Linked DNA regions of Homo sapiens. The protein of the gene in region 3 binds, or shares a complex with, the protein of the main gene of each other region. Each region holds a gene or a part of one and is shown on either strand. Other genes may lie near its edges. The genes, in order: PRPF6, PPIH and LSM6.

Evidence for each region.
Region 1: LSM6 (region 3) and PRPF6 share a complex: the UniProt entries of both Homo sapiens proteins name them as parts of the U4/U6-U5 tri-snRNP complex.
Region 2: LSM6 (region 3) and PPIH share a complex: the UniProt entries of both Homo sapiens proteins name them as parts of the U4/U6-U5 tri-snRNP complex.

What each region holds. Positions count from the first base shown.
Region 1 is NC_000020.11:63,987,481-63,998,449, forward strand, and holds part of PRPF6 (pre-mRNA-processing factor 6), read left to right. Parts: intron 1-5,926; coding exon 5,927-6,005; intron 6,006-7,435; coding exon 7,436-7,612; intron 7,613-7,846; coding exon 7,847-8,002; intron 8,003-10,969. UniProt on the Homo sapiens protein: Involved in pre-mRNA splicing as component of the U4/U6-U5 tri-snRNP complex, one of the building blocks of the spliceosome.
Region 2 is NC_000001.11:42,658,785-42,669,753, reverse strand, and holds part of PPIH (peptidyl-prolyl cis-trans isomerase H), read right to left. Parts: exon of another isoform or gene 10,911-10,969; coding exon 10,846-10,910; exon of another isoform or gene 10,527-10,845; coding exon 10,503-10,526; exon of another isoform or gene 10,410-10,502; coding exon of another isoform or gene 10,384-10,409; exon of another isoform or gene 10,233-10,383; coding exon 10,188-10,232; exon of another isoform or gene 10,128-10,187; intron 8,893-10,127; coding exon 8,850-8,892; intron 4,892-8,849; coding exon 4,799-4,891; intron 3,775-4,798; coding exon 3,687-3,774; intron 3,208-3,686; coding exon 3,167-3,207; intron 2,404-3,166; coding exon 2,335-2,403; 3' UTR 2,314-2,334; intron 1,708-2,313; exon of another isoform or gene 1,603-1,707; intron 1-1,602. UniProt on the Homo sapiens protein: PPIase that catalyzes the cis-trans isomerization of proline imidic peptide bonds in oligopeptides and may therefore assist protein folding. Participates in pre-mRNA splicing.
Region 3 is NC_000004.12:146,183,980-146,194,266, forward strand, and holds the end of LSM6 (U6 snRNA-associated Sm-like protein LSm6), read left to right. Parts: intron 1-3,294; coding exon 3,295-3,408; intron 3,409-5,642; coding exon 5,643-5,677; 3' UTR 5,678-7,556; downstream 7,557-10,287. UniProt on the Homo sapiens protein: Plays a role in pre-mRNA splicing as component of the U4/U6-U5 tri-snRNP complex that is involved in spliceosome assembly, and as component of the precatalytic spliceosome (spliceosome B complex).

The DNA.
Region 1 (10,969 bases), on a different chromosome or scaffold from region 3:
AAAAAAAAGCCACATATGGTAGGCCCACAGCTCGTATCATACTGAATGGGGAAAAACTGGAACGCAACAAGGATGCCCACTTTCACCACTGTGATTCAACATTGTACTGGAAGTCCTAGCTAGAGCAGTCGGACCAGAGAAATAAATAAAAGGGCATCCAGATTGGAAAAGAAGAAGTTAAATTATCCTTGTTTGCAGATGATATGATCTTATATTTAGAAAACCCTAAAGACTCTACCAAAACACTATTGGAACTGACAAATTGATTAAAGTTGCAGGCTATGCCCCCAGGTGTGGTGGCTCACACCTGTAATCCCAGCACTTTGGGAGGCTGAGGGTGGGTGGATCACCTGAGGTCAGGAGTTTGAGACCAGCCTGGCCAACAAAGAGAAACCCTGTCACTATTAAGAATACAAAAATGGCCGGGCACGGTGGCTCACGCCTGTAATCCCAGCACTTTGGGAGGCCGAGGCAGGTGGATGACTGGAGGTCAGGAGTTCGAGACCAGCCTGACCAACGTGGTGAAACCCTGTCTCTACTAAAAAAATTACAAAAGTTGCCAGGCGCTGGGACTCACGCCTGTAATCCCAGCACCTTGGGAGAGTGAGGTGGGTGGATCACTTGAGGTCAGGAGTTTGAGACCAGGCTGACCAACATAGTGAAACCCTGTCTCTACTAAAAATACAAAAATTAGCTGGGTGTAGTGGCACACGTCTGTAATCCCAGCTACTCAGGAGGCTGAGGCAAGAGAATTGCTTGAACCTAGGAGGCAAATGTTGTAGTGAGCTGAGATTGCACCACTGCACTCCAGCCTGAGTGACGGGGCAAGACTCTGTCTCAAAAAAAAAAAAAACCAAAAAACAAAAATTAGCCGGGTGTGGGGGTGCACGCCTGTAGTCCCAGCTAGTTGGGAGGCTGAGGCAGGAGAATCGCTTGAACCCAGGAGGTCGAGGTTGCAGTGAGCTGAGATTGCACCACTGCACTCCAGCCTGGGTAACAGAGTGAGACTCCATCTTAAAATAAAAGAAAATATCCATACTACCCAAAGTAATTTACAGATTCAATGCAATCCGTATCAAAATACTGGGGACATTATTAACAGATAGTGAAAAAATAGCCAGGTGCAGTGGCTCATGCCTGTAATCCCAACACTTTGGGAGGCTGAGGCAGGTGGATCACTTGAGGTCAGCAGTTCGAGACCAGCCTGGCTAAACCCCATCTCTACTAAAAATACAAAAATTAGTTGGGCATGGTGACAGGTGCCTGTAATCCCAGCTACTTGGGAGGCTGAGGCAGGAGAATCACTTGAACCTGGAAGGCAGAGGTTGCAGTCAGCTGAGATCGTGCCATTGCACTCCGGCCTGGGCAACAGAGTGAGACTCCGTCTCAAAAAAAAAAAAAGAAAAAGAAAAAATAATTCTAAAATGTACATGGAGCCAAAAAAGACCCAGAATAGGCAAAGCTATCCTGAGCAAAAGGAACAAAACTGGGGGAACACTTGACTTCAAATTATACTACAGAGCTGTAGTAACAAAAACAGCATAGTACTGGCAGAAAAACAGACACATAGACCAATGGAACAGAATGGACCCAGAAACAAATAGGTACCTCTACAGTGAACTCATTCTTGACAAATGTACCAGGAATATTTATTGGGGAAAAGACAATCTCTTCAATAAACGGTGCTGGGAAAACTGGATATCTATATACAGAAGAATGAAACTAGACCCCTCTCTGTCACCACATACAAAAATCAAATTAAAAGACTTTAAGACCTCAAGCTGAAACTACTAGAAGAAAACATTGGAGAAACTCTACAGGACATTGGACTAGGCAAAGATTTCTTGAGTAATACCCCACAAGCACAGGCAACGAACGGAAGCCAGGTGTGGTGGCTCGCTCCCGTGAGCCAAGAGTGCGCTACTGCACTCCAGCCTGGGCCACAGAGACTGTCTCAAAAAGGAAAAAAATAAAAAGTTCTCATTATAGAATATTAGGAAAATAAGAGTAAGTATGGGTAAAAGCATAACATTTATTCATAAGTCTAGAAAGTAACAGTTAACATTTTGGCTCATTTCCTCTTTCTGTTGCTTTTTTTTATCTTGGCTCACTGCAACCTCTGCCTCCCGGGTTCAAGCAATTCTCCTGCCTCAGCCTCCCAAGTAGCTGGGATTACAGGTGCCTGCCACCACGCCTGGCTAGTTTTTGTATTTTAGTAGAGACGGGGTTTCACCATGTTGGCCAGGATGGTCTCAAACTCCTGGCCTTGTGCTCCATCCACCTCGGCCTCCCAAAGTGCTGGGATTACAGACGTGAGCCACTGCGCCCAGCTCTGTTGCTTTTTATACATGTAATCATAACTTCCTGTGATGTATGTAGAATGTTTTATTTTTTGAAGATAATTTTAGAATAGTAAAATATAGTTCTTCTGGAATTTTATTTATTTTTTATTTTTTTGAGTCTCCCAGGCTCAAGTGATTCTTCTGCCTCAGCCTCCCAAGTAGCCGGGATTATAGGCACGCGCCACCACACCTGGCTAATTTTTGTGTTTTTAGTAGAGACAGGGTTTTACCATGTTGGCCAGGCCGGTCTTGAACTCCTGACCCCAAGTGATCCACCCGCCTCAGCCTCCCAAAGTGTTGGAATTACAGGTATGAGCCACCGTGCCCAGTCTTGCCACACACTTTAAACAACCAGATCTTACGTGATGTAAACTTGCTGCCTCGAGGACAGCACCAGGCCATCAGGGGTCTGCCCTCAAGACTCAAGTGGCCTCCCACCAGGCCCCACCTCAAACATTGGGAATTATAATTCAGCATGAGATTTCATGGGGACACAGATGTAAACCATATCCTTTGGCCTCCCAGAGTGCTGGGATTACAGACATAAGTCAATGTGCCTGGCCTGGACATCTTTTTAGAAGCTCGTTATTAAATCATTGTGCATAAATTTTATACCTATAGTAATTAAACGTGAATGGCATTGCATTTCACTTTTTTTTTTTTTTGGATACAGGATCTTACTCTGTCACCCAGGGTGGAGCGCGGTGGCTTGATTATAGCTCCCTGTAACCTTCAATTCCTGGCTCAAGCGATTCTCCTGCTTCAGCCTCCCAGGTAGCTGGGATTACAAGCACGTGCTACCACACCCAGCTAATTTTTCTTTTTTCTTTTTTTTTTTTTGAGATGGAGTCTCACTCTATTGCCCAGGCTGGAGTGCAATGGCGCAACCTCGGCTTACTGCAACCTCCGCCTCCAGGGTTCAAGTGATTCTCCTGCCTCAGCCTCCCAAGTGGCTGGGATTACAGGCATGCACCGCCACGCCCGGCTGATTTTTGTAGAGATGGGTATTTTTAGTAGAGACGGGGTTTCACCAATGTTAGCCAGGCTGGTCTTGAACTCCTGCCCTTGTGATCTGCCTGCCTTGGCCTCCCAAGGTGCTGGGATTACAGGCTTGAGCCACCACGCCAGGCTCACACCCAGCTAATTTTTGTCTATGTTGCCCAGGCTGGTCTTGAACTCCTGGCCTCAAGTGATCCACCTGCCTCCCCTAACCTTGGCCTCCCAAAGTGCTAGGATTACAGGCATGAGTTACTACACTCAGCCCTACATTTTAAAAATTGATTGGAACCTCCAGGGTTAATGCATTTTAAAAAACATCAGGCTGGGTGCAGTGGCTTACATGTGTAATCCTAGTACCTTGGGAGGCCAAGGCAGGAGGACCACTTGAGTCTAGGAGTTCGAGACCAGCCTGGGCAACATGGTGAAACCCTGTCTCTACAAAAACAAAATTAAAATTAGCCAGTTGCACATGCCCGTAGTTCCAGCTACATTCCCAAGGCTGAGGCAGGAGCATCGCTTGAGCCTAGGAATTAGAGGCTACAGTGAGCTATGCTTATGCCACTGTGCTCCAGCCTGGGCAACAGACCAAGGCCGTGTCTCTAAAACAAAAACAAAACAAAAAACAGCAGGTGACACGGACCCATGAAGAAAGCCATTAAATTAAATGTTTTTAAAAAGTAGTGTACTTGGCCGAGCACGGTGGCTCACACCTATAATCCCAGCACTTTGGGAGGCCGAGGCGGGCAGATCATGAGGTCAGGAGATCGAGACCATCCTGGCCAACATGGTGAAACCCCGTCTCTACTAACAATACAAAAATTAGCTGGGTGTGGTGGTGCATGCCTGTAATCCCAGCTACTCAGGAGGCTGAGGCACGAGAATCACTTAAACCCAGGAGGCGGAGGTTGCAGTGAGCTGAGATCGCACCACTGCATTCCAGCCTGGTGACAGAGTGAGACTGTCTCAAAGAAAAAAAAAAAAGTAGTGTACTTATTAAAACTTTTTATTCTGAAAACTGTCGTAATACAAACAAGTAGGAAGAACAGTACTGTGAATACCATATCCTCACATGTAGTCTCAACACCGAAGTGCAATTACATGGGTTATGTTCTGGCACATAGAGCTGTGCAGCTGAGCTGAGTTGGTTAGAGGTGAACTATTTACTTGGAAGAGAAGGAAGCAAGGAAGGAAAGGTGGGATGAGTTCAGTAGAGTGTTTGGAGTGTTTGGTGGTAACTAGGATAGTTACTGTTTTTCCTTGTAGGTGTTTTTTTGTTTTGTTTTGTTTTGTTTTGTTTTGCGACAAGGTCTCGCTCTGTCGCCCAGGCTAGATTGGCTCACTGCAACCTCCACTTCCTGGATTCAGATGATTCTCCTGCCTCAGTCTCCCAGGTAGCTGGGGATTACAGGTGCCCACCACCATGCCCAGCTAATTTTTATTTTTATTTTTATTTTTTTGAGACGAAGTTTCACTCTTGTCACCCAGGCTGGAGTGCAATGGCATGATCTTGGCTCCCTGCAACTTCCACCTCCCAGGTTCAAGCAATTCTCCTACCTCAGCCTCCTGAGTAGCTGGGATAACAGGCATGCGCCACCACGCCTGGCTAATTTTCATATTTTTAGTATAGATGGGGTTTTACCACATTGGCCAGGCTTGAACTCCTGACCTCAGGTGATCTGCCCACCTCGGCCTCCCAAAGCGTTGGGATTACAGGTGTAAGCCACCACGCCTGGCCTTCTTAGGTGTTTATGGGATGGTCCTACCTTTGGGATTTTGTGAATTTTCAAGCAGTAAATATACACATGTCCAAATGGAGGTATTTAGATCAAAGTAAGATCTTTTTTTTTTATTTTAATGAATTTCTACATGTTTTTATTTGGTGGATAATTGAATTAGTAGACTTACGAATGTATTTATATTTATTTATTTAGAGGCAGAGTCTCTCTGTGTTGCCCAGGCTGGAGTGCAGTGGTGCGATCTTGGCTCACTGCACCCTCTGCCTCCTGGGTTCAAATGATTCTGCCTCAGCCTCCCAAGTAGCTGTGATTACAGGTGTGTGCTACCATGCCCAGCTAAGAATGTATTCATAGTTACCTTAAAATATATTTGATTTGGGCTGGGTGCGGTGGCTCACACCTGTAATCCCAGCACTTTGGGAGGCCAAGGTGGGTAGATCACAAGGTCAGGAGTTCGAGAACAGCCTGGCCAGGATGGTGAAACCCCGTCTCTACTAAAAACACAAAAATTAGCTGGGAGTGGTGGCGAGCACCTGTAATCCCAGCTACTTGGGAGGCTGAGGCAGGAAAATCACTTAAACCCAGGAGGTGGAGGTTGCAGTGAGCTGAGATTGCGCCACTGCACTTTAGCCTGGGTGACAGAGCAAGACTCCATCTCAAAAAAAAAAATGTGTGTGTGTGTGTGTGTGTGTGTGTGTGTGTGTGTATATGTATATATATATATATATATTTGATTTAGCTACTAAGAGTATGGAATTGTTCTTTTTGGTGATTTAATTGAGATGGATAATAAATTTGCTTCAGAACAGACATGCAGTGTTTCTGATGTGTGCATGTTTTATTTCCTAGGGAGCAAAGGGAGAAAGAAGAAATAGAGAAATATCGTATGGAACGCCCCAAAATCCAACAGCAGTTCTCAGACCTCAAGGTGAGCCGATGAAGCGGTGAATGGTGTGCGGTTTCTAACGCTCTCACCCTAACCCGCAGAGACTCAGACTGCTCTTACGTGGAATTTATGAGACTTTACGTTTTTAATTTAGGGGGTCATTGCTTAGAAGAAGAAAGTGTTTGCTTCAGTATGTTTAATTATATGTGTGTAAAAAAAAACCCTTCCCCTACTGTAAAAGGTAGGACAAATGAACTTATTTTCTTTGTAATTTTGACTCCATTTATACCTAAGATTTTCTTTTTTCTTTTTTCTTTTTTTTTTTGGAGGCAGTCTGGCTCTGTTGCCCTGGCTGGAGTGCAGTGGCGTGGTCTCAGCTCACTGCAACCTTCACCTCCTAGGTTCAAGCAATTCTTGTGCCTCAGCCTCCTAAGTAGCTGGGATTACAGGTGCCTGCCACCATACCCAGCTAATTTTTGTATTTTTAGTAAAGACAGGATTTCGCCATGTGTACCAGGCTGGTCTCAAACTCCTGAACTCTAGTGATCTGCCCACCTCAGCCTCCCAAAGGGCTGGGATTACAGGCGTGAGCCACCACGTCTGGCCCCATTTATACGTAAGATTTTCTAAACTGTGTCCCCTGGGCTTTGAGAGAATAATTTACATTTTAGTGAAGTTGAACAGATCCAATAAATTGATTTTTCTTTTCTTTTTCTTTTTTTTTTTTTTTTGAGACGGAGTTTGGCTCTTGTTGCCCAGGCTGGAGTGCAATGACGCGATCTCAGCTCACCGCAACCTCCGCCTCCCAGGTTCAAACGATTCTCCTGCCTCAGCCTCCCTAGTAGCTGGGATTACAGGCATGTGCCACCATGCCCGGCTAATTTTGTATTTTTAGTAGAGATGGGGTTTCTCCATGTTGGTCAGGCTGGTCTCGAACTCCCGACCTCAGGTGATCTGCCCGCTTTGGCCTCCCAAAGTGCTGGGATTAACAGGCATGAGCCACCGTGCCCGGCCTAAATTGATTTTTCTAAGTGAAGTAGAAAACTATTTTTGGGGCTGGGTACAGTGGCTCACATCTGTAATCTCAGCACTTTGGGAGGCTGAGGTGGGAGGATCACTTGAGCCCAGGAGTTTGAGACCAGCCTTGGGGAGAACCTGTCTTTACAAAAAATAAAAACTTAGCCAGGCATGGTGGCCCACGCTTGTGGTCCCAGCAACTTGAGAAGCTGAAGTGGGAGGATCACTTGAGCCTGGGAGGTTGAGGCTGCAGTGAGCTGTGATTGTGCCACTGAATCCAGCCTGGGCAACAGAATGAGACCCATCTCAAAACAAAAGTAAAAAACAGTTGCTGCATCCAAATCCCTTCTAAAGCTTGGTGATCTGGAGGCTAGGGGTGAGAGAGGGCATGGTCCTACCTGGGCACATGAAATTCTGTCAGAGAATTAATGTTTTTGGGGGCTGGATATTTCCAGAGGAAGTTGGCAGAAGTCACAGAAGAAGAGTGGCTGAGCATCCCCGAGGTTGGCGATGCCAGAAATAAACGTCAGCGGAACCCACGCTATGAGAAGCTGACCCCTGTTCCTGACAGTTTCTTTGCCAAACATTTACAGACCGGAGAGAACCATACCTCAGTGGATCCCCGACAAACTGTGAGCTTCCAAAAAAGGGCACATGTGGCCCATTTAGTCCTGTTAGATCAGTGGCAGGAATGGTGGGTGGTGTTGGATTCAATGCTTCTGCAGGTCATGGCTATGCTGTGGCCGAGTCTGTCTGCACAGCTGTGCATATGTCAGGCCACTGGGGAAGTATTTCAGAGAGTAAATTTCTTGGGCATGCAGTGCAAACCGTTGTTTTATTCTTGCCTTTCCTCTCTTCCCCTCCAGCAATTTGGAGGTCTTAACACACCCTATCCAGGTGGACTAAACACTCCATACCCAGGTGGAATGACGCCAGGACTGATGACACCTGGCACAGGTGAGCTGGACATGAGGAAGATTGGCCAAGCGAGGAACACTCTGATGGACATGAGGCTGAGCCAGGTGAGTTTGTCACACAGCATTTTCCTGTGGACAGGTTTAGACAGTTTAATTTTGTTTTGTTTTCTTTTTCTCCTTCTTCTTCTTCTCCTTTTTCTTCTCCTCCTTCTCCTCCTCCTCCTTCTTCTCCTTCTCCTTTTTTTTTTTTTGGCTTGATTTTTGCCTGAATAATTCCGCAGATTTTTAAAATTTTGACCCAGAGTCTTGCTGTGTCACTCAGAGGCTGGAGTGCAATGGTGTGATCTTGGCTCACTGCAACCTCCACCTCCTGGGTTCAAGTGATTCTCCTACCTCAGCCTCCTGAGTAGCTGGGATTACAGGTGCCCACCACCACACCCGGCTAATTTTTGTATTTTTTGTAGAGACGGGGTTTTACCATGTTGGCCAGGCTGGTCTTGAACTCCTGACCTCAGGTGATCTGTCTGCCTTGGCCTCCCAAAATGCGGGGATTACAGGTGTGAGCCACTGCACTTGGCCTTTTTTTAAAATATAAAATAATAATTTTTTAAAAAGTGTGTTTTTTTCCTGCCTCTCAGTAAATTGTCTTGTGGCCCTGCATGGAACGTGTACTTTGATCTGGAGACTAGGTGCTCTAGACACCAGTGAAGTACAGAACTCTTTCTGATATGCATATCAGATACCACGAAGGAACATACTACTTTTGGCCTGGCCAACATGGTGAAACCCCGTCTCTACTAAAAATACAGAAATTGGCCAGGTGTGGTGGCGGGCGCCTGTAATCCCAGCTACTTGGGAGGCTAAGGCAGGAGAATTGCTTGAACCCGGGCGTTGGAGGTTGCAGTGAGCCGAGATTGCACCAGTGCACTCCGGCCTGGGCAACAGAGTGAGACTGTCTCAAAATAAAAAACAAAAACAAAAACAAAAAGTGGCACAATCATGGCTGGCTACATACAGCCTTGACCTCCCTGGGCTAAGGCGATCCTTCCACCTCAGCCTGCCAAGTAGCTGAGATTACAGGCATGTGCCACCATACCCAACTAATTTTTGTATTTTTTGTTGAGATGGGGTGTCACTAGGTTGCCCAACCTGGGCTGGAGCTCCTGGGCACAAGTGATCTGTCCGCGCTGGCCTCACAAAGTGCTGGGATTACAGGTGTGAACTACCATGCCCAGCCTGAAATTTGTTTACATAGAAATTGTAAAACTTTTTGGGCCAGGCACTCATGCCTGTAATCCTAGCACTTTGAGAGACCAAGGTAGGAGGATTGCTTGAGGTCAGGAGTTCAAGACCAGCCTGGGCAACATGGTGATGGTGAGACTCTGTCTCTACAAAAACTAAAAGAAATAGCTGGGCCTGGTGGTGCCTGTAGTCCCAGCTGTTCGAGAGGCTGAGGTGGAAGGATTGCTTGAGCTAGGGAGTTTGAGGCTGCCATGAGCTATGATCGCGCCTCTGCACACCAGCCTGGGTTACGGAGTGAGACTGTCTCAATAAATAAATAAAACTGTCACAGTAATTTTTTTGTGGTAAAATATATGTAACACAGAATTTACCATTTTAATCATTCTTGACTGTACATACCTTCACTGACATAATTATGTTCATGTTGTTATACAACCTCATCACCATTCATCTCCAGAACTGTTTTCATCTTCCCAAATTGAAACTCCGTACCTGTTAAACATTGAGTCCCCGTGCGCTTTCTCCCCAGCCCCTGGCATCCACCGTTCTCTCTGTTTCTATAAATGTCACTACTCTCTGGATCTTATATGACTGGAATCATACAGTATTTACCTTACTGTGACAGGCTTATTTCAATTAGCTCATGGTGCAGCATGCGTCAGCATGTTCTTTTTTTTTTTTTTTTTTTTGAGACAGAGTCTCTCTCTGTCACCCAGGCTGGAGTTCAATGGCATGGTCTTGGCTCACTGCAGCCTCCGCCTCTCGGGTTCAAATGATTCTCCCACCTGAGCCTCCCAAGTAGCTGGGACTACAGGTGTGCACCACCAAGCCCAGCTAATTTTTTTTTTTTTTTTTGAGACGGAGCCTGGCACCGTCACCCGAGCTGGAGTGCAGTGGTGTGATCTCGGCTCACTGCAACCTCCACCTCCTGGGTTCAGGTGATTCTCCTGCCTCAGCCTCCCGAGTAGCTGGAACTATAGGCGTGTGCCACCATGTCTGGCTAATTTTTGTATTTTTAGTAGAGACGGGGTTTCATCATGTTGGCCAGGATGGTCTTGATCTCCTGACCTCGTGATCCACTCGCCTCAGCCTCCCAGGATGCTGGGATTAGAAGTGTGATTTTTTTGTATTTTTAGTTAGAGATGGGATTTCACCATGTTGGCCAGGCTGGTCTCGAACTCCTGACCTCCAGTGATCCACGTGGCTCGGCCTCCCAAAGTGCTGGGATTACAGGCATGAGCCCCGGCGCCCCGGCCAGCATGTTCTCAGTTTAAGGCAGGATGAGACTTGACTCTTTGGTGTGTGTGGACCGCATTCGCTCATCTATGTAGACCGCATTCGCTGACCTGTTTATTCGCTGACGGACACTTGGACCACTTTCACCTTTTGACTATTGTGAATAATGCTGCTGTGAATACGGGTGTACAGATATTTGTCAGAGACCCTGCTTTCTATTCTTTCTTTTTTAATAAAAATTTTATTTATTTTTTTTTGAGACGGGGTCTTGCTCTGTCACCCAGGCTGGAGGGCAGTGGCGTGATCTCGGCTCACTGCAGCCTCTGCTTCCCAGGTTCATGTGATTCTCCTGCCTCAGCCTCCTGAGTAGCTGGGACTACAGGCATGTGCCACCACGCCTGGCTAATTTTTGTATTTTTAGTAGACACGGGGTTTCACCATCCTGGCCAGGCTGGTCTCGAACTCCTGATCTTGTGATCCACCCACCTTGGCCTCCCAAAGTGCTGGGTTTACAGGCGTGAGCCACCACGCCTGGTCAAAAATTACACTTTTTTTTGTAGAGACAGAATCTTGGGAGGCTGAGGCAGGAGGATT
Region 2 (10,969 bases), on a different chromosome or scaffold from region 3:
AAAACTGAAAAGCAGTGAAAGACTGATAATTTGGACTTCATCAAAATTTAGAACTTCTCTTTAACAAAGAATATCACCAAACTTAAGCAACACAATACTAATTTTTTTCTTAAAATATATTCTGAAGAAAACAATTACAACATATAAAATTAAGAACTAATGCTCAGTTGGGGGCAGTGGCTCACGCCTGTAATCCTAGCACTTTAGGAGGCCAAGGTGGGCAGACCACTTGAGGTGGGGACCAGCCTGGCCAACATGATGAAACCCCATCTCTACCAAGAAATATAAAAATTAGCTGGGCGTGGTGGCATGCACCTGTAGTCCTAGCTACTTATAGCTATTGTATAAGGTAATCTTATACAATATTTTTAATACGTTTGTGCATGAAACAGATTTTTGACTATGATCCATCACATGAAGTCAGGTGTGGAATTTTCCACTTCTAATGTCATGTTAGTGCTCAAAAAGCTTCATATTTTGGAGCATTTGGGATTTCGGATTAGGGATGCTCAGCCTGCACTGCAGTTTCGGTTTTTCTTTTCCTTTTTTTTTTTTTTTTGATGTCATCCAGGCTGGAGTACAGTGGTGTGATTATAGCTCACTGCAGCCTCAAACTCCTGGGCTCAAGTAATCCTCCCACCTCAGCCTCCTGAGTAGCTGGGACTACAGGCATGCACCACCACACCTGGCTAATTTTTTTTTTTTTTGGAAAGACGGGATCTCACCAGGTTGCCCAGGCTGGTCTCGAACTCCTGAGCTCAAGCTATCTGCCCTCCTTGGCCTCCCAAAGTGCTGGGATTACAGGAGTGAGCCACCTCCTGCCGGGCTGTTTTCATTTTTTAATACAAGGTGGTTTTACATGAACTAAGAAGGAAAAGTTTTCAAGACATATTTTTTAGAACATGAAAAATATAGTATGATTTCATTTGGGAAAAAGAAAACCTCCCAAAATTAGATGGGCAAGGCAAAGGCCCTGATGGACATACATCAAACTAATAAGGAAGTGACCTTTGGAAAGGGGAGTGGAATTGCAGGTGGGTATTGTCAAGAGGGGCTTTCACTTTATCTGTTTGGTGTGAAAGTTTTCACAATGAGAGTGTATTATGTTACTTGTGTAAACCAAATGAAATGAAATATGGGAACCTTGATTGGATCACCTTTTTTTAAGCTACAAAAGTTACTTTTGGGACAATTGGGGAGGTTTGAAAATGTACTATATATTAGATAATATTGTGGTTACGTAGGATGTTCTTATTTTTAGGAGTTCCTTGCTGAAATACTTAGGGGTAAAGTGTCAAGAAGTCTGCAACTTTCAAATGGGAAAGAGAAGAAGAAAGGGTAAAGGAAGGAAGATGGGAAGAAAGGAAGGAAAGGATGGAGGGAGGGAAGAGGAGCAGGAGGGAGGAGGAGAGGCAATGGAAATGGGTGAGGAGGCAAGAAGGGAAAGAAAAAAACAAATGTCAAGGCAAAGCAATAAAACAAGAATGTTAATCATTGGTGAATCTAAGTGAAGATATATTGGTGTTCAAGGTATTATCTTCTAACTTTTTTGCAGGTTTGAAAATAAAAAAAAAAGAAAAACAAAACATCACTACCCCTCACCTGGCTGGAAGTGATGGATTTCTCCCTTGTACTCTTCTCATACTTGGCAATGTCACTCATATTACTAGTGATCACCTCTGGGAATGTCTTACTTTCCATGAGCTCCTGAAAGGAGACATCTTTCAATTCTTTGTCCCCCTCTCTGCAGCTAGCATGCTGCCCAGCGCAGAGCAGGCAGTGGTAATTACGGGTAAGAAATGAGTCCATGTAGGCTGGAAGATGCAAGGCATTCACCTATGAGGCCAGCGAATATGAAGTCGAGGCCTGGAATTGCAGTATCAGTTCTGATGAGAGGCATGACAGGTGTGTCTCCTGGCTGCCTGGCCTGGTCCCAGCAGAGAGTTACTCAGGCCTGGAGCCAGGTCTTTCTAGGGGGACTACTGAATGGAACTGTAGTCTGAGAGTGCTGTTACAAACTGCCTGAGTAGTTTTCACATTGATACTTTGTACATTACAAAGTGATAGAAAAGTAAAGTGCTCCTACAACCCTTTCTCTTTTTATTTTTACAGTGACTCTGAGAGATAGGTATTACAGTATTTCCATTTGACAGATGAGGAAATGTGCTCAGAGAAGGAAAGTGACTACTCCAAGGCCATACACGGAGGAACTGGGCTCAATCTCATGTCTTCAAGACTAAAGTTCTTTCCACTAGACCATGCTGCCTTCTCTGAGGTCTGATTCCTAACCTAATAGGAGAAAGACACACTTACCTGATTCAGTCTTTGTCTGGACTACATCTCCCCACACTGCGAGATCACCACAGGTAGCTTGGGCTTATTGTTGGGGCCTGTGGGAACATTCTAGGAAAAAAAGCACAATGGAGATTCATCCACTCAGGCACTTCCTCGTTCCCTTATCAAACTTTTACTGATGCCTGCCAGCCCTGTGCTAAGGACTCAGCACTCAGAAACAGTCCATGTCCTGGCAGACAGGTAAAGCATATAATACCTATCAAAGAGAAAATGCAAAACACTTAGAAAATATCAAACTTATGATTATATAAGAAAAAGTTATAAGAGAGAATTGGATAAGGGTTAGATAGGCAACTAAATTGGGGCTTAAAGAGGTCAGGGAAGGATTCACAAAAGAGGGGTATTTGAACTGTGCCTAGAAGGATGAATGGGATTCCATCAGGAGGGAAGGAAAGAAGAGCATTCCGGCTAGAGGAAACTGTGTGAGCAAAGGCTCAGGGGCAGGAAAGAGCAAGCAGCAGGGACATGCATGGCAGATTTAGAGAAGAGCTAGTAGCCTGATGTGACTGGAACATGGAAGAGGCAATGGCAGAAGAAGGGGCCATGGAGAGGTAGACAGGGACTAATCATGAAGGACCTTGAACGCAATGCTGAGGAGTAGAATTTTATCAAGTAGGCAACAGGATCATCAGAGGCCAAACCTCAGTGTTGGCCAGACAGGCTAACTTAGGTGGTTCTCTTCCCTTTTCCTGGGGCAATGAAGACAGCCTAACAAACTGGAGCTCATTCCCCCTTCTCTAGCTCCTGCACGCTAGTCAGACAGTACCAGACCACAATGGCAGAGAAACAGAAAAATCAAAGCAGTACTTACCTCAATCTTTCTCATCACTAGAAGTCCATCGATGATTTTTCCTGTAGGAAGAGCATGAGCTGGACTTTATTCTTGTTTACATAGCATTTTCCAGCTTCCAAAGCCCATTCTTAGCTATTTTCTCATTAAACCCTCATACTAACTTTAGGAAATTAAGATGCGGTAGAGGTGAAATGACTTGCTCAAGGTCATAGGTAATAAGTAGAGTTAGGGCTCAAACTTATACCTGAGTGACTCCAAAGTCTCACCGTATCATGCTGCCTCTATGGCATTTCTTTGGTGCTAGCAACTGGGTTTTCTCCCTAAGTGGTTCCATACTATATCAAATGGTCCTTTTGTCCTTCCCTCTAGTTCTCTAGCCACACATGTTCCCCACCTCCCCACCATTTCTGTTTTCTCTATTACCACCTAAGCAGTTACACAGGTTGAGCTTTCTTGGTAAGAGTTTGAGAACTAACTCCTCTGGAGGTTCCATCCAGGGTGAATGGGGCCTGGACCATGAGACAGGAGTAGGACTTACCAAACACCACATGCTTCCCATCCAGCCAATCGCACTTAGAGCAGGTGATAAAGAACTGACAGCCATTTGTACTTGGACCACTGTTCGCCTGATGGAAACCAAATATACCTGCAGTAAGTTTCCCCGGCCATGTTAGCTGAAGGGCAAGATTTCCAAAAGAGCTTGTAACACTGATTCCTCTATGGTTTTTTTCAGTAAATCTAACTTAGCACCTATTATGAGCCAGGGCCTAAGCTAGGATCCAAGGATACAGAGATGAACAGGATATGGCTCACTGCAGCCTCAAACTCCTGGGCTCAAGCAATCCTCCCCACCTCAGCCTCCCTAGTAGATGGGACTACAGGTGTGTGTCACCACACCTGGCTAATTTTTTTTTTCTTTTTTAAGTAGAGACTAAGTCTCACTATGTTGCCCAGATTGTTCAAACTCCTGACCTCAACCTCAAGCAATCCTCTTGCTTCGGCCTCCCCAAAGTGCTGGGATTACAGGTGTGAGCCACCACACCCAGCTATGAATATGTCTTGAAAGCACAACTGTTTACATTCTGAGCAGTAGGGCTGAATGCCCAGACACAAATCCTGGTTCAGATTTTAGTTCCCCAGCCTGCTAGCCTGCTAGTGGGCCTTACCTACTGGTTTTCTTTTCTTTCTTTTCTTTGTTTTAAGATGGAGTTTCGCTCTTGTTGCCCAGGCTGGAGTGCAGTGGGGCAATCTCAGCTCACTGCAACTTCCCCGTCCTGGGTTCAAGCGATTCTCCTGCCTCAGCCTCCCGAGTAGATGGGATTACAGGCACCCACCACCACACCTGGCTAATTTTTTGTATTTTTAGTAGAGATGGGGTTTCACCATGTTGGCCAGGCTGGTCTCGAACTGCTGACCTCAGGTTATCCACCTGCCTCAGCCTCCCAAAGTGCTGGGATTACAGGCGTGAGCCAGCATACCTACTGGTTTTCTCAGTCAAACCAGACTAAGAAAGGAGGTGGTAAAGGTGAGTCCTGGGCCAAGCAAGAGAAGGAAAGCATTTGCTTCCATCCCAAGAGACAGCACTGGGCCTCAAGAGGGGCCCAGGAACCAGCTGGCTATAACCCAAAACCTTGATTGGACCTCACTTACCATGGAAAGCAGGCCTGGAGCTGAGTGTCTAAGTTTAAAATTTTCATCTGCAAATGGCCCCCGGTAAATACTGGCGACTCCAGTACCATCTCCCTGAGCAGAGAGAAGGGAAGTATTAGTGACTTGGAGTGTTGGGTCCCTGGAAACCGGAGGAAGAACACTGTCGCACCTAAAGCATGACATCTTTAAAGTCTACTCTTACTCTTGTTGGTCATCTTGGAAGCTGCACCTATTTGACCCCACCCTGCAATCAGATCAAGCCTTATATAAGGTACCTACAGCCCACAAAGACTGGCTGGAGCATTTTATAGACTGGATAAAAGAGGTCACAGCTGGGCCTCTAGAACGATCAATTAAGATGCAGACAAAGTAGGGAACAGCAACAAGGTGATCACATACTCAATCCTTGCCATTCCTGAAGACTCTCATGCCTTCAGTCACATAAAAGTACCCACTTAAGTGACTACCACCCCATTCCCCTAAACTATCTAAGAGGGTGGGTGAGCTCTTGGCAGTCTGTATGTACAACATGATACCACCCTCCTGGTCATAGTTGATTGATCTAGGGAAGGATGCCTAACTCACTCTGGGCCAACTAGAGTTCCTTCTCTGGGAATCTGGAGGTGGGATAGATGCTCTCTTTGAGGCTAAATTTGTAACATGTAAACCTGAAAGCTGGATGTGACTACCATTTGCAAGCTGGGCTAGAGAACAGAGAGAGAACACAACACAGATGTGTAGCGAGCACTAGAGAAACGGAGATAAAGAACTGCCTTGGTTCTCTATGGTTCTAGTTCCTAGTTCTATTTCTTCCTTTAGTTCCATGAAACACTCCCTTTATTATAAACTCCCAATTTCTGCTTAAACTAGCTTTATTTGCATTATCTCCTTGCTCTTCCAGCAACCTTGAGGAATAAGCATTATCATCTTCCCCATTTTTCATGTGAGGAAACTGAAGTCTGGGTAATAAAACAATTTGACCAAGGCCATATTTGCAGTGCCTTAAATAGAATCCCTGAGTTTTAAAGGCAATATTGAGGAGTGCCAAAAAGATCAAGCTCTCCTCGCCAGTTAGTAAAGAGAAAGAGTACATGGGAGAAAGGGAAAACACTGACCCAGTGAGGAATCAAGGGTCCCTTTTTGGAAAAGAACTACCATTAATATAAGCCAGAGAATAAAGAAAAACTGTCCAAATTCAAACCTTTGTTTGCCTAAATATTATAAAATAAAATCAAGTCTGTATATTAGAAAGACCTGGCCTGGTGTGGTGGCTCACACCTGTAATCCCATCACTTTGGGAGGCTGAGGCGGGTGGATCACCTGAAGTCAGGAGTTTGAGACCAGCCTGGCCAACATGGTGAGACCCCATCTCTACTAAAAATACAAAAATTAGCCACGTGTGGTGGTGGTACCTGTAATCCCAGCTACTCGGGAGGCTGAGGCACGAGAATCGCTTGAACCCACCCGGGAGGTGGAGGTTGCAGTAAGCCAAGATCGCACCACTGCACCCCAGCCTGGGCGACAGAGCGAGACTCCATCTAAAAAAAAAAAAGATCTGAATTTGAGTTCCAGATCTATCACTTAGAGCTGGGAAAGTCACTTCCAATCTGTGAGCCTCAATTTCCTCATCTATCAAGTGAGGATGAAATTACCTACTCTTTACAGTTATCATGAAGATTCAATTAGATAGTGTCTGTAAAAAGCACTGTACAAACAATATAGTACTATATAAATAATCAAATAAGCTAATATGTCATTAACTAACTACACATACATATTAATACAGAAGGAAGAGAGAAAACAAGTTCATCTCCAATTTCCCAGTGAACCTAAGGGACACATCAGTTACCGTGCCATTCTCCGTAATCACGTTATCTATAGCTCTCCAGAAACAATAGGGAAAATTACAAAATTAATAATTTGGAGCAAACAATAGAAAGCAACTTATCTTCAACTATAGTGAATTGATCAAATAACTTGTCTATTCATAATGAAATATTAGGTGGCTATTAGAAAGCATGTTTTAGAAGACATAACGACAAGGGAAAATATGGACAATTATGAAGTACAAAAAAAGTAAAACATATAGATTATTTTAAGTCTGTTAAAAATTATATAAACACACATATACATACTAAGGTAAGACTGACAACTGTAAACCAAAATGCCAATAGTATATTGTGAGGTGAGAATGAGGGTAATTCATTTGGTGATTTATTTTCTTCTTTGCACTTTTCTTTTGCAACCAAAATAATAAATACTATTAAAACCAAAAATAAATGAACAAACAAATATTCTTGGTCAAACTTTGGAAGGTCTCAAATTCTGATTTTTCTGACTCTTGCTCATTCCATTTTGCCTTCCCCAAGGAAGGTTCTAAGCAAGCTTTTTTTTTTTCCCTTTAGACAAGGTCTTGCTCTGTCGCCCAGGCTGGAGTGCAGTGGTATGAACATGGCTCACTGCAGCCTTGAATTGACCTCCTGGGCTCAAGGGATCCTCCTACCTCAGCCTACCAAGTACCTGGGACTACAGGCGCACACCACCAAAAATAAAAAAATAAAAAATAACTTTTCTTATTTTTGTAGAGACAGGGTCTTACTATGTTGCCAAGCTGTTCTCAAACTCCTGGGATCAAGCAATCCTCCCAGCATCCCAAGGTACTGGGATTACAGATGTGAGCCCTACCAGCAATTGCTTTTAACTCGGCCTTCAGACTGAGCAACTATTGTCTAACCCCAGAGTTATCGACAAGTGATCAGATGTGCCTGGGGCAAAGACTAGTAAAAAGCTATTCCTCTCCTTGTAAGGCAACAGGGAAGCCTAGGGGAAAAAAAAGGAAAGAAGGCAGAGGATAGCTTCTCAGCCCTTCTTACCAGCTAACAAACCCTACTACCATTATCTGTTTCCCGGGGCTGCAAACAAATGCCCACAGGAGCAGGCAACGTAAATAAGGGAAACAGTTGTGGAGACTGGTGAAATGGCAAAGATATGCCATGTCCAAAGGGACCAGTTCCTTGATTCCAACCAATTGTCACTGTCACTGCCACTGTGAGAAATGCAGGCCCAGCATACTTCCACTTTCCATTTTTTAAAGAGAAAAAAAAACTAGGATTTTTTTGTGCCATTTCACAGTTATACAACACCATGCAGATGAATCAAAACATAGGTAAAAACGTAATTCGGCCTAAAACCTGCCACTCTGCAACCCTGTATTGCATAGGAAAGGAAAGAGGTCTTAAAAACTCATGAGATTCAGACTAAATAAACACATAAAAGAGAACACATGTCTCCCAGATCCAAGAAAACAGCAACACAACTAACCAAATGATATTAATAAGAGTAAAGAAAGACCATTCAGAAGTGGGGGGTAAGGACAAAAGCAGGTTTAAGAAAGAAAAAATGTAGTTTATCCCACACCCTCCAAGGTTGGGGTGGGGAGGGAGGCTTCATATGGGGGACAAAAACAGTCTACTTACAAGAAAGCTATGGTTAGCAAAAAAGAACTATTTCACTGGGCTCTCTCAGTGAATAGAGCAAAATTCCTCCAGAACTATCTACCTCTCTTGCTCTGATTCCTTGCCCACAAATCAACTTCTTATGAAAAACTCAGCTTTCCAGGCACTGTGACACCCAGAAGTAAAAGAGAAAATGAAACAAGCATTTAGCCCACTAGAAGGAGACTTACCTCCATTCAGAAAAAAACAAAAACCACAGCTGATTTCTGACTAAGTTTCATATGACTAATTAGTGTGAACCTATCATAGATCATCTATAGGTATTCTTAAAAAGTCCAATTTCTGGCTCAAAAAGGCTGAGATTTGGACCATGGAATTTAATGCCTCAATCAAAGTGCTAAAGTCGGTTATCTACAGTCAGTCGTACCCAGCCACTTTCAAGAACTTCCCCATCACCATTCTCTCCAACACCCACATCAAACCTGGCTATTGTTCTCAAGCCTGAAGACTGGGTCTCTGTAGTAAAAACAGCAATTGCAACAATAACAACAAAAACTAAAACTACGGGTCTTTGATAGGAAAGGAATAGTACTTACATTAACAAAATCTCCACCCTGAATCATGAAATCCTTTATGACCCTGAAACAGAGAGCAAAGAATACTGAGAAGATTTTATGGTTTAGAAAAACATAGATGTTGTTATTATTGTATTAGATTAACGTTGATTTCAAAATACACTATCACTTTGGCTATTATAAAATCATTACTCTTAGCTGGGTGCGGTAGCTCACGCCTGTAATCCCAGCAGTTTGGGAGGCCGAGGCAGGCAGATCACATGAGGCCAGGAGTTTGAGACCAGCCTGGCCAACATGGCAAAACCCCGTCTCTACTAAAAATACAAAAATTAGCCGAGCGTGGTGGCACATGCCTGTAGTCCTGGCTACTCGGGAGGCTGAGGCAGAAGAATTGCTTGAACCCAGGAGGCGGAGGTTGCAGTGAGCCAAGATCATGCCACTGCACTTTAGCCTGGGCGACAGAGTGGGACTCTGTCTCAAAAAAACAAAACAAAACAAAAAAAACCTGAAGATTATTCTTTTCCTGAATGATTAAGCTGAAAGGATAATTAACCATAAAAAAGGATTTTCGTTATAAATTAGGGCATGTTAGAGTTGATCAAGTGCATGATCTGGTACCTGAACAGTAATAAGAAGAAGGGGCTGAAAGCTTACTTGCCAAAGCAAAAGGCAGAGCAAGGGTTTGATGTAAATTTGGGGGAAAGAACTACAGAGAATTTATGTGAAATGTACTGCTAAACATGTAAGGGCTTAACAACTGTTAGCTATTACCCCTAGGGAGGGTCCTTAACCTTTCTTATCCTCAGTTTCCTCCTCTGTAGAATGCAGATCACCCATACCACTTCACAGGAGTCTTACTGGGGATTAGAGACCCAAAGCTCTAAAGCTGTGATATAATTATGTGCTAACATTGTTACTAACCACAGTGAGGCCATGAGAAAGATTCTATATTGAAATGAGACTAAGTGTTGACATACTCCACTCCCCAGGAAATATGATTATCCTTGGACAATCATATATGATCATTTTAGGAATTAGTTATAAATATCAACCAGCAGGATATATTATATGCACTTTAGGATTACAAGTGTACTTTTTAAAAAATCTGCATTCGCACAAACAAGTGCATGAAAAAGACAAGATATTGTAAAGATGAGTAGTTTCTGTTTTAAAGACCTAAGAAGTGGGGGAGTGTAAGTAGAGTTAGAACATTTAATAAATCTTCAGTTGTTGAGTCCACAAAAACATTTCTTCTCAAGAAATGTAAGAATTACCCTCTGGTTTTATTTTCCTCTAAAGAGCCTAATCCCCCAGGAAATATTTCTGAAAGACTCCAGGATGGCTTGCCAAGAGCCTTACCTGTGGAAGGTGCTTCCTTTGTATCCTATTGGAACCCCATCTTTCCTATAACCGAAAAGAAAGAGACTTGGAGTGACAGCAGGTAGCACAAGGCCTTTCCAGTTTACCATGCACTGGAGCCAAAAGGACTCTCCTAAAGATGGTTGACAGACATAAAGAAGGCAAATAAACTAGGGACAGACCCTTGGGGCATTACCTTCTATCACTGTCACCAGCAATCATTCAAGGCCAGCAGGTGGTTCACCGATACCCTCACTGCAGCCCCAGAACACCCCTCTGGAGCAGGCAAAGAAGTCAAACACATCTGAAACTGACCTGAATTCTCCGGTGCAGAACTGCCTGAAAGGGACAAAAAATGAATGATTCAATCACTATGATGTCACAGTCGTGAGCGCCTCTAAATACGGGAAAGAATAAACACTGGAGCCAGCAAGTCCACCAATCGGCCAGCCAGACGTCCAGACACGCAGTCACACAGACTAACAACGTAAATTAACACGGGAACAATCCAAACGGCAACCAGACAGAGCAATGCATGGAGGAATCAGGTCTCAAGAGCAGTGAGCGGACGGACAGAGGTAGACAGGCTATTTCAGGCGGCTGACTGGAGCCCGACTTCTGCCTCAGCTAATCCAGCGGAGCTGGAGCACGTCCTTACCTAAAGTTCTCGGCCGTCTTAGGCACAACGTCTGCAAAGAGCTCGATCTTCATGCGGCCAACTTCCTGCAATCAGCGGGAGAGTGTCAGAAGGCCCAGTCCAAGACCATGAGGGCTTCACGGAG
Region 3 (10,287 bases):
CAAAAACAGAAGTTTATTTTCTCACAGTTCTGGTGGCTAGGAAATCCAAGATCAAGGTGCCAGCAGGTTCAGTTGTCTGGTGAGGGCTACGTCCTCCAGAGAGGAGGAATGCTGAGTCCTCACGTGGCAGAAGGCAGAGGGCAAACCAGCACACTGCGTGAAGACTTTTTTTTAATGCAGGCCTTCATCCCATTAATGGGCAAGTCCCCATGGTCTGCTTGCTTCTTAAAGGCCCCCACCTCTTAATACTCTCCTATTGCCAAACACCTGAATTTTGGAGGGGACACATTCAAACCATAGCACAGGTTTTTGTGGCCTTTTTTTGGTCTCTTTTCTGAATAATTAATAGTCATAGTAATCTCTTGAGCTTTTTCCTTTGAAATCTCTATTGATTATCCCCACCTAGTAGAGGAGGAGCTAGGACTCAAGTTCAGGCTCGGCTCATAAGCCTTGTTAAGAAACCACTCTGGTGATTATGTACTCCTTTAGCTTCTTGACATTAATAACGTATCTCCAGTTTAATTTTATTTTTATAGTAAAATTAATGGATTCATACGGAATACTGAGGTAGTATAATGTCTCCGTGTACTGCCTCTCACCTGCGAACTTTTGATGATGGGCCCATAGGAAGTAATAGACTTCTAGGGGTTTTAATCTGTTTGACAGTTGATTAAAGTGAGGACATTGTGTTCAATGTCTTCTCAGTACCCACTTTATTGAAGAGATGAACCAGCCTGACCTTTTTTCTCTGTACTCTTTAGGGAAAATTTTTCTATTTATAAAGGCAATACATGTTTTAGTTTTGTTTTAATTTTAGAAATGTAAAAGGAAATAATACAGAAAAGTATATAGAAGAAAGCCAAGGATCCCCAATGCTACTATCCAGAGACAGTTTACCAATTTTGACCTCTATATTAGCATAATTTGACATAAATGGAGTCAACTACATGCAACCTGATTTTTTTTTTAAACGTTGAAACAGTACATTTAGTTTTGTAATAATATAGAGGGTTTAATGGCTGCATAGGAATCTCTTGTGTGGCTGTACCATGGTTTTGCTTTTACTGTTAACCAATTTCCTATTAATGGACATTTAGGTGTTGACCAGTTTTTTGCCACTATAAACAACTCTTCTACTTTGACATATATTGTGAAGTTGACCAAACATCTCTTTAGAATCAATTCCCTGGGCTAGGATTTACAAGTCAGAGAGTATTCCATGGCCCTGCATCAGGGAACTTGGGTTTATCCTTCATGTTCTCACCAACTCTTGTATTAGCTTTTTTTCATCTTTTCCAATCTAATTGGCAACAAGTAATATCTCATTCTACATATATTTTCTTTGTTTACTAGTGAGATTCAGGAGTCTTTCACATGGATAGTAACCATAATTTTTTTTCCTCTTATGAATGGCCTTTATACTATTAAAGCAAAATGTTTTATACTATTAGATAGCCTTACTAAAGGAACGTGCTTATTTTGTGGTTTACAAAACCCCAAAAAACCCCAAAGCAAAACAACAACATACCAAAAAAAAAAAAAAAAGAAAAACTCCAGCAACTCTCTGTAGCAGTTTCTCTTTGAGAAAATGTCTTGTTTTTGGTTTTGTATAGTAGTTTATCTCATGGAAGGAAAGGGTTGTATTTCTAACCCCCTGGGCAGTTTTTTTGTTGTTGTTGTTGCTTGTTTGTTTGTTTGTTTGTTTTTGCCTTTGCTGTGAGAATAGATATTTTAATTAGAAGTGAACTCTTTTTTTTTTTTCTTTTTTCTTTTTTGAGACCGAGTCTCACTCTTTCGCCCAGGCTGGAGTGCAGTGGCTCAGTCTTGGCTCACTGCAACCTCCGCCTCCCAAGTTCAGACGATTCTCCTGCCTCAGCCTCCCAAGTAGCTGGGATTACAGGCACCTGCCACCATGCCTGGCTAATTTTTGTATTTTTAGTAGAGACGGGGTTTCGCCATGTTAGCCAGGCTGATCTTGAACTCCTGACCTCAAGTGATCTGCCAGCTTCTACCTCCCAAAGTACTGGGATTACAGGCATGAGCCACTTTGCCCAGCCTGGACATTTCATTTTGAAATTCTTTTCATTGGTTTTCAAACAGGTTTGCATATTGTGCCTCAGATTTTTCTTGCTCATTTATAATTGCAGTTTGTATGTAAAATAGTACAGCAGGAAACGAGCTAAAGTTGTAGCTTAAGCTTTCTTTTGCTAGGAAATAATTTTATTATTCACAGTCCATTCTCGTTCTTTGAGAGTTTACCGCTTTTAGCAGAATTCTGGTAGATTAATGTCTTTTGCTGTCATTACACAATTTTGAAAGGAAACTTTTTTGTTTAGAGGATAATGGGGGCAGAGGCAGAGAGTGAGGAGCATATTAATGAAGTTAAGACATCAAATGAGAAACTATAGACTCGACTGAATTGAATCTAGTATTTGTTTTTACTTAAATTTTTTTTTCTAGGAAATACCACTTTAAATTAGAGACAGAATTAGAGGCTTACAGATTTTCATCTTTTGAAAAAGATCATCAGGTCAAATTTTACAAAATTTATACCATCTTAACACAATTAAAGATTGACTCAAACTGTTTCCTTGAAAGCTCCCTCGAATGTTTTTGGCCATTTTCTCTATTAGTTTTGATTGGAAAATATTATAGCTGTAACAAAACAGAACAAGATGTGTTATAATGCAATATGTTGCCCTATATTCTCAAGCTGCTCTTCACTGTGAGTCACAGCTTTAAGATGTTCTTTCGGGAGCACCTGCTGTCTCCTCTTCTATTATTTTAACAGATTGTGGAGACTTCCTTTTAACCCTGGAGTACATTCATCTGCTGCAATAGATGTTGTAAAAGAATGAAATAAATCTGCCAGACCCGTATTTCACTTAGTGGCTAAAGTAGGAAATGCCACTGGAACCAAGGATCATTTGTTTATGCATAATTGCCCACCTTGTGCTTAGCTTTCAAAGAATGGTATTTTTGCCGGAATAGTCTTATTCTCTTACTTTTTTGAATGCTTTAAAAGTTTCTGTGTGGTCATACGTACCATGAGGGAAGTGACAGTTTGTTGTTTTACCGGGTAGTAGTGGGTGCGTGACTGCCTTCCTAGACTTCATTCAGATTGGCATAGAGTTGTTTTGTGCTTAAGCTGTTGAGTTTCATTTATGGTGTGAATTTTTATATTAAGCATCTAAGAACTAATGAATAAAGAGATTGTCTGCTCTAAGGTATACCCTGTAATTTTCAACTCTTATTTGCCTTGTGTATCTTCTTTTTGACTAAATATGTCTGCAGGGGTCCTGGCTTGCCTGGATGGCTACATGAATATAGCCCTGGAGCAGACAGAAGAATATGTAAATGGACAACTGAAGAATAAGTATGGGGATGCATTTATCCGAGGAAACAATGGTAACATTTCTTCGCCCTACAGTACAGCATTCAAAATAAGCCTTTCTATTTATAATCCAGATCACCAAAGAGGTTTCTAGATAATTTAAAAGTCCACTTTTAGGCTTGATTATTTTAAAATGCTTATATGTCAGATCTTCAGTTTGACCAGTTATTTTGTAGATGCTTCATGGAATTTTGAAACCAAAATTCTCTCCTTCCCTTCCTTTAGTGATGAGGAACTGAGGGACATTGTTCTCCTTACCTGGAACCCTGCTTTCTCGAATATAGTGTAGTATATCTCCCCAACACATATTCCTGCTTCTTGTAGCCTGGAAGTTGGAGATGTAAGAATGGGCACCGTTTCCCTGCTGTCTTTGATTTGCATAATTTGGCAGTTCGTCCTATTTGTCCCTTCTCTATTAAACATTCAGATGCTTTCTATGCAGATTTGCATCCTTCAGTTTGGCAAAAATGGCAAAATAGAAAAAGTTACTCAGTTTTTAACAACTAATAAATTGCTATGATTTTTATAGTTATTTTTAAGTACCTAGTTTAAAAATGAAAATTATAATAAAGTCATATTTGTATTTTTGGTGGGGAGGGAAAGATATCAGAATTATGAGAATTACCCCACTTTTTGGTTCCATCTCCCAGAAACTCTGGGATTCTTGAGTTCAGATTTTTTGTTGATTTCTTTAATTCTGGATGTCTTCAACCCCCTAAATAGTTGGATCTCTTTGCTATAAACTAAACTTCCTGACTTTTATAATAAGAGTCTGTCCCCTATGCTTACAGGACCTTATTTCTTCATATCATATTTTTACATACATTATTTCCTGGCTTTCTAGTCCTTTCTATTTATAGAATTATTTATCCTATTTTTCATATCCTTATTTGACCTCCTCTTTTTCCTAAGAAATGTTATGATCTTGTCTCACCTCAAGACAGCTAATGGCAGCAGTCACTGGCAGGTTGGGTTCTGTGCGTGTTGATAGGGTAGATCCTTTAACGTGCACACTACCCCTAGGACTTGGGGGGCAGGGTTGGGGGGCGGCTGTACTGGCATTCTGATGCTTCCCTTCATGTCACATTTCCCATGATGTAATCAGTGACACTCATCTTTAGACTCCCAAGTTCACATCATTGGCTCTTAAAGAGGATCTTGACTTATTTGATTCATCTGTGCTATGTTCTTTGATGAAGACACCTTACTGTTCGCTTTGAGCAGACCTCTCAGAAGCCGAGTAGGCATGGAAGGTGGAAGGGAGAACCACCTCTAGTTTGGCCAAAGTGACCCAAGCATTTCATTTTGTTTCATTCCTACGGACCACACATCCTACGAGTTCATGTTGGTAGTCATGAGAAGACCACTAAGCAGAACATTAGGTAACACCAAAGTATGAGACTTTTAACGGGAACTCAGAATAAGGACTTTGGTATCATTAAAAAATAAAAATAAAAAATAAACTCCTTAGCTCTTGTTTATCCTGTTGCATTTAAGAAGGTAAACAGCAAGTTTAGAGTTTGTATTGGGGAGACAGATGAAAATATGTTGTTTATTCTTAATTTGAGATCTAGCCTGGTTAGATTTACTGATTTACTTTCTGAAAAGCATCTTTTTTTTTTTTTTTTTTTCCTGAGATGAAGTCTCGCTCTGTGGCCCAGGCTGGAGTGTAGTTGTGCAATCTCAGCTCACTGCAGCCTCTGCCTCCCAAGCTCAAGCAGTCCTCCCACCTCAGCGTTCTAAGTCGCTGGGACTACAAGTGCATATACCACCATGCCTGGTTAATTTTTTGTATTTTTGGTAGAAACGGGGTTTCACCATGTTGCCCAGGCTGGTCTCAAACTTCTGAGCTCAAGTGATCCACCCGCTTCAGCCTCCCAAAGTGCTAAGATTGCAGGCGTGAGCCACCGTGTTCAGCCCTGAAAAGCATAATTCTTATACTTCTAACTATAAAGCATTCTTAGATACCAGGGACTTTCACATATATTTTATTTTATCTTCCTGGTCACACTTTAAAGAGTCAGTGAGACACATGGATGAAATTAGGACAGTTTTGTAAGACATCAAACCTGGGTGTAGATTCATAAAACTAGTCTTACAGTACTTCTAGAGTTAATTGAATGATACGAGAATTCCTTTTAAATGTCAGATGTATCAGACCAAAATCTGTTGGCTTTTAAACTTGCTACTATGTATACTTACAAGCAGGGTTTTTTAAATTTCAATTTATGTATTTTTTTCTTTTCAGTGTTGTACATCAGTACACAGAAGAGACGGATGTGAAGACACCAAGAGAGCAACGCTTTTCATAGTTGGATATATTTTTTTATGAATTTTTTCTAATTTTTGCTTCTTTTGTGATACAATTTGTCCTCTTTTTATAATAGTTGGTGATTTTTCACTGACATGTGAGTAAGATAAATGTATACAATTGTGGATTTAATTGTGAAATGTTCTTTCACTTGTAAGTTTCAGTCATTTTCTTTTACCTCGTTGTCAGTGTACAGAATGCTAAAATAATTAAAAAAAGACAAAATATACCTCTTCCTACAAGATTATTTAACTTAAGTTTCGAGAAGTGTCATTTCATTTGACTTGCTTTTCTTATCCAGCTAAAATGATGCATATATTTTATATATTGTATGGACATATAATTAAAACATTTTGGAGGAATCCTCCTTTATTGCATCCTTTTCTGTTCATACAGAATCCTTGCGTGAATATGTTCTACAAAGGCATCCAGTTTCAGTCTGAAGCTACAAAAAGGGGCCACAGGATCAGAAGTTCAGCCACTGATTGAGTCACCTAAATAAAAAACAGAATTGGAAAGCCAAGAGTGCCACTTGCACATAAGGAGTGGGAATTCGAACTGAGGTGCTGGAGAAATCCTAAAGATGAACAAGATTTCAGTGAGGAGAAAGCCCTCCTGTCAGTGGTCCCCCTGCATCTCCTTATGCAATTAGACTTTTTAGGTTTCCCTGCTCCCTTTCAGGAGCATTGGCATCAACGTTATTCTCTCAGTTTATGAACACAGTAGGGGAGGGGCCATTCCTGTACATCTCTCACAGTCAGATTAAAGCAAAGCCTAGAGTTTGTAAACATAATTCAGGTTCTAATTGCCGAGCTGAGATTGGGAAAGAATTTTTCCTAACTCTGGTCTAGCAAGTGGCTGTAGGGAGGCCTTTCTCAAAAATCAGCTGTATTTGCCTTTGACATTGTCCAGGAGCAGAGCACCAGGCTTTATGTTGCTTGGCACAAGGCAGCTCCTCTGGTTATGTGACTCCTGCTGAGAGGATTTTCACAATTTATTAATGAGCTTTCCACAACCCTGCTTTATTCTCCAAACAGTTTTACGCTGTCTCTAGGAACAACAAATATATCTGGGCACTGTGGTTGAATGAATACCAGACAATTGTGTGAATGTTGTATTGGACTTCCTCTTCCCTCCCTTCCCAATCTAAATAGCATTCCTATTTCAGGAGCCGATGGTGTGATTCGAAACAACTGCTTGGTTGAAGGATGGGGGGCAGGATCGAGAAGGAGAGAGGGAAGGGGCAGTGCTGATTCTGGAGAGGTGTATGTAGTGTTTTGTCTTGGTTTATTTTAAAGATCAGAGAGTAATTGGAAACAATTATTTTTTAATTAATAACTTGGGAAAGGTGAACAGAAGCATTTCACAGGGTTTTACCGTGTGCACACTGAAAATAAAACACTTTATGCTATGCTTCAATAATTTATCACTTCTTGACAGGGGCTTGGAAAAGGTCCAGTATGTAAGTACAAATCACCAATTTGCTCTTTTATAAATGAGTTCTTTTAAGGAGAAAATGGATGGCTCTCCAAGTGGAGCATACATGTTCTCATTTGTTTTGTAGAATATGTGGGGCTGCAGGTTATTGTGTCCCTTCATTCACTTATATCAGCCACCTCTAAAAGCAATTCCATTGTAGTCTCCCACTAATCTGTAGCGTCCTGTTTTTTCTAACTTCTTCCCTGACCTCGCCTTTGATATATAAGTCTTTATTTTCCCCTTGCCATCTCTCTAGTTTAATAGCTCTACAGTGGAGTACTGTTTTCAACCATGGAACTACTTTTAATCAAGATCAACTTTGGGAAGTGCTGCCATTTTTATGGTAATAAAGGACTGTATTATGCACTTGAACCCGCTCAAGTTGTCCCCTGTGTATACCTTCACATAGTAGAACCATGAAACAAAGTGTAAATGCTTAAATTGCTTTGTTCTTAACTGTAGTCTCCTAGAGGTCAGTGAATGATTTCTAGTTGCATTGTAGCGAAGACATTTGTTCCAGGTTGAAGAATTTTTTACTTGAGAACATACATTTTCCCTGTCTGTGTGCCCCCAAACCCTGTCTGCCACACTCTTTCTCTTGGGCTGTGACAAAACAGAATGTTTAGCGAGAAACAAAATTGTGCTCGATTTTCAGACTATCTGACTTCATTTTCTGTTTTGGTCTTTGAGCTATTCCTTGGCTAATCTTCCAACAAGTCGAATTGATTCTTATTTCAAAACTGTTTATCCCAAAACAGAGCTGTTGACAAGTACAAATACAGATGGCAGACATGTGGTATGATTTTCATGTTCTCATCTCAGCATTCAGGAAGGGAATGTTATTGAAAGATGGTTTACATCTGAAGCTTTCTGCTCAAGGCAATATGGAATGCATGCTAGGAGCGCTTAATTATGCTTAATTAATAATAGTAACAAATGCTTACGGGATTTCCTTAAGGTCTAAAAGTGCAGCAGCATTGGACTTGCTGTGTAAGGCTTACCGCCCCGGAGGCTATAATAATCTGTAACAATAGAAGCAACCTCTAGGGGGTAAAATTGTCTTTGATAATCACTGACTCTTGGGTGACCTCAGTACAGCATTCCAGGCCAAAGATCCAGAATGTTCCCTTACTGGGGGCAGACACGCCTATGATTGCACTGACCTTTGTCCTCCGAGCAGATGATCCTCCAGAGTACTGGCTAGCTCTTAGATTCAGAGGTAAATCCCAGCCCATGCTGTGGCCTTGCTGTTCCCCACAGCCCAACTGCATTAACTATAATTTTTTTTTCTCCACAAAAAGAAATTGTTGGTGAAAGGAAGACAACCTTCAGTTTTTCTCCCCACCGACCTGGTTTCAGGAGGCCGTGTGCTCAGTGGAGTGTCTCTGCCTGTCTTCGCTAAGCTTGCCCCTGACCATTGTGGAGGTAGATGCCACCTAAGAGTGGCAGGGTTAGTCCTGACCTCTGGGGTCTGAATATCCAGCAACTATCTTAATTCCAGTCGCTGCTGTCTGTTGTACCACCAGTACACAGCAGTACAGCTGTGTCTCTGTTGTTGACCGACTAACTTAGATTCACTGTTGAAGTCCAATTAGCCAGAGTGGGGGTGAAAATGCAAGAGTGGACGGTGAGAGTGGTATGTGTCATGTACGACAGGACAGTGGAGAGAGCCCTCTCTGATACCTGTTAGTCCCTCCTTTAAAAGATGCGGGAGGTGGCCAGGGAGTGGGGATTTCAGAATGTGGTGGCAGAAATCAGTTTGGCATTTATTGGATGACAGCTGTAGGCAGGCACTGTGCTATACCTTAGGGGGGTAGATAAAAAAGGAAATATGACATTGCACCTTCCATACTGAGTTTGTAGGTTTGGGTATTTATGGGGGAAAGTGGTACCCTCCATCCTTTTTTTAAAAAATTGGGCCAAAATTGTAAGAATTCTTTTAAAAACCTGAACATTTTAGATGGATTTGAGCATCTCAACTGTATGTTCGTATCTTGAAATTCCAAATAAACTCAGGAGTGGATAATTCTGAAATCTGAACGTAACTATGCCCTGTTTACCCACAGGCCCAGGTAGTTCAGCCTCCCATCTTTGTTTTTTTCCTTCTCCTAGAAAAGCCAGCTTTTGTGTGGTTTAACTGAACAGTCATGTTGGATTTTTTTTTATTTGAAGACCCATTTTGACTCATCTGCAGCACTGAAGGATTTTCTTCATAGTAATTTGGGAGTTATAGCAGATAGAAAGGCAGAGGCATATTCCAGGAATTTCATGAAATATAAAACACTGAAACACTTGGGATAGGCTAGTTTTCAATGCCTAGGTTACACAAATGTCCAAATTCACATGGGCTTAATTTATTCCAAGTTTTATAATGGGATGGATGTTGGTGAGTTTGGCAATATACCAATAATTTGGATTAAAGGAGAGGTTAGTTTATGAAAAGTTTACGTAACAATCTTAGGCAATTTTATTACCATCATGTGCATACGGTATTTCAAGTCACTATTCAGTGTTTATATCAAATAGACGTTTTATTGAACTTGGAAAAATGAAAAAATTAAAAATGTGTAATATGTACGGTAGAGTGGATGTTGCTGGGATACAGGGCTCCTTATACCCCGCCCACAGTAGTGTGTTAGTCACAAACCCCAAATCTCAGTGGTTTGAAACAACTAATGATCTTACTTATGCTCCATGTGCACAGGGGCCCATAGGTGGGACTCCACTGATTGCAGTCACCTGGGGGCCCAGGCCGAGGGAGGTAGCACCTTATGTTTCCACCATCTCAACCTGAGGAATCAGCATCTGCTGTGGCAGGGGAAGGGCAGAAAGGATCACTCCCTGGCTCCTAAAACCTTTTGCTTAAAGCTAGTGTCACTTCTACCCCATTATTAGGCAAAGCAAGTTACACGGTCAGGGCTTACTTTAAGTTTTCAGAAAAGTATAATCCTTTCATGGACCCAGGAGAGACAACCAGAAATACTGGTGAACAGTGGTAGTAACCTACCACATGATGTGTACTAGTCATGGTTCCTCCAGAGAAACAGAACCAATAGGATGTATAGAGAGATTTTAAGGACTTGGCTCCCACAATTGTGGAGGC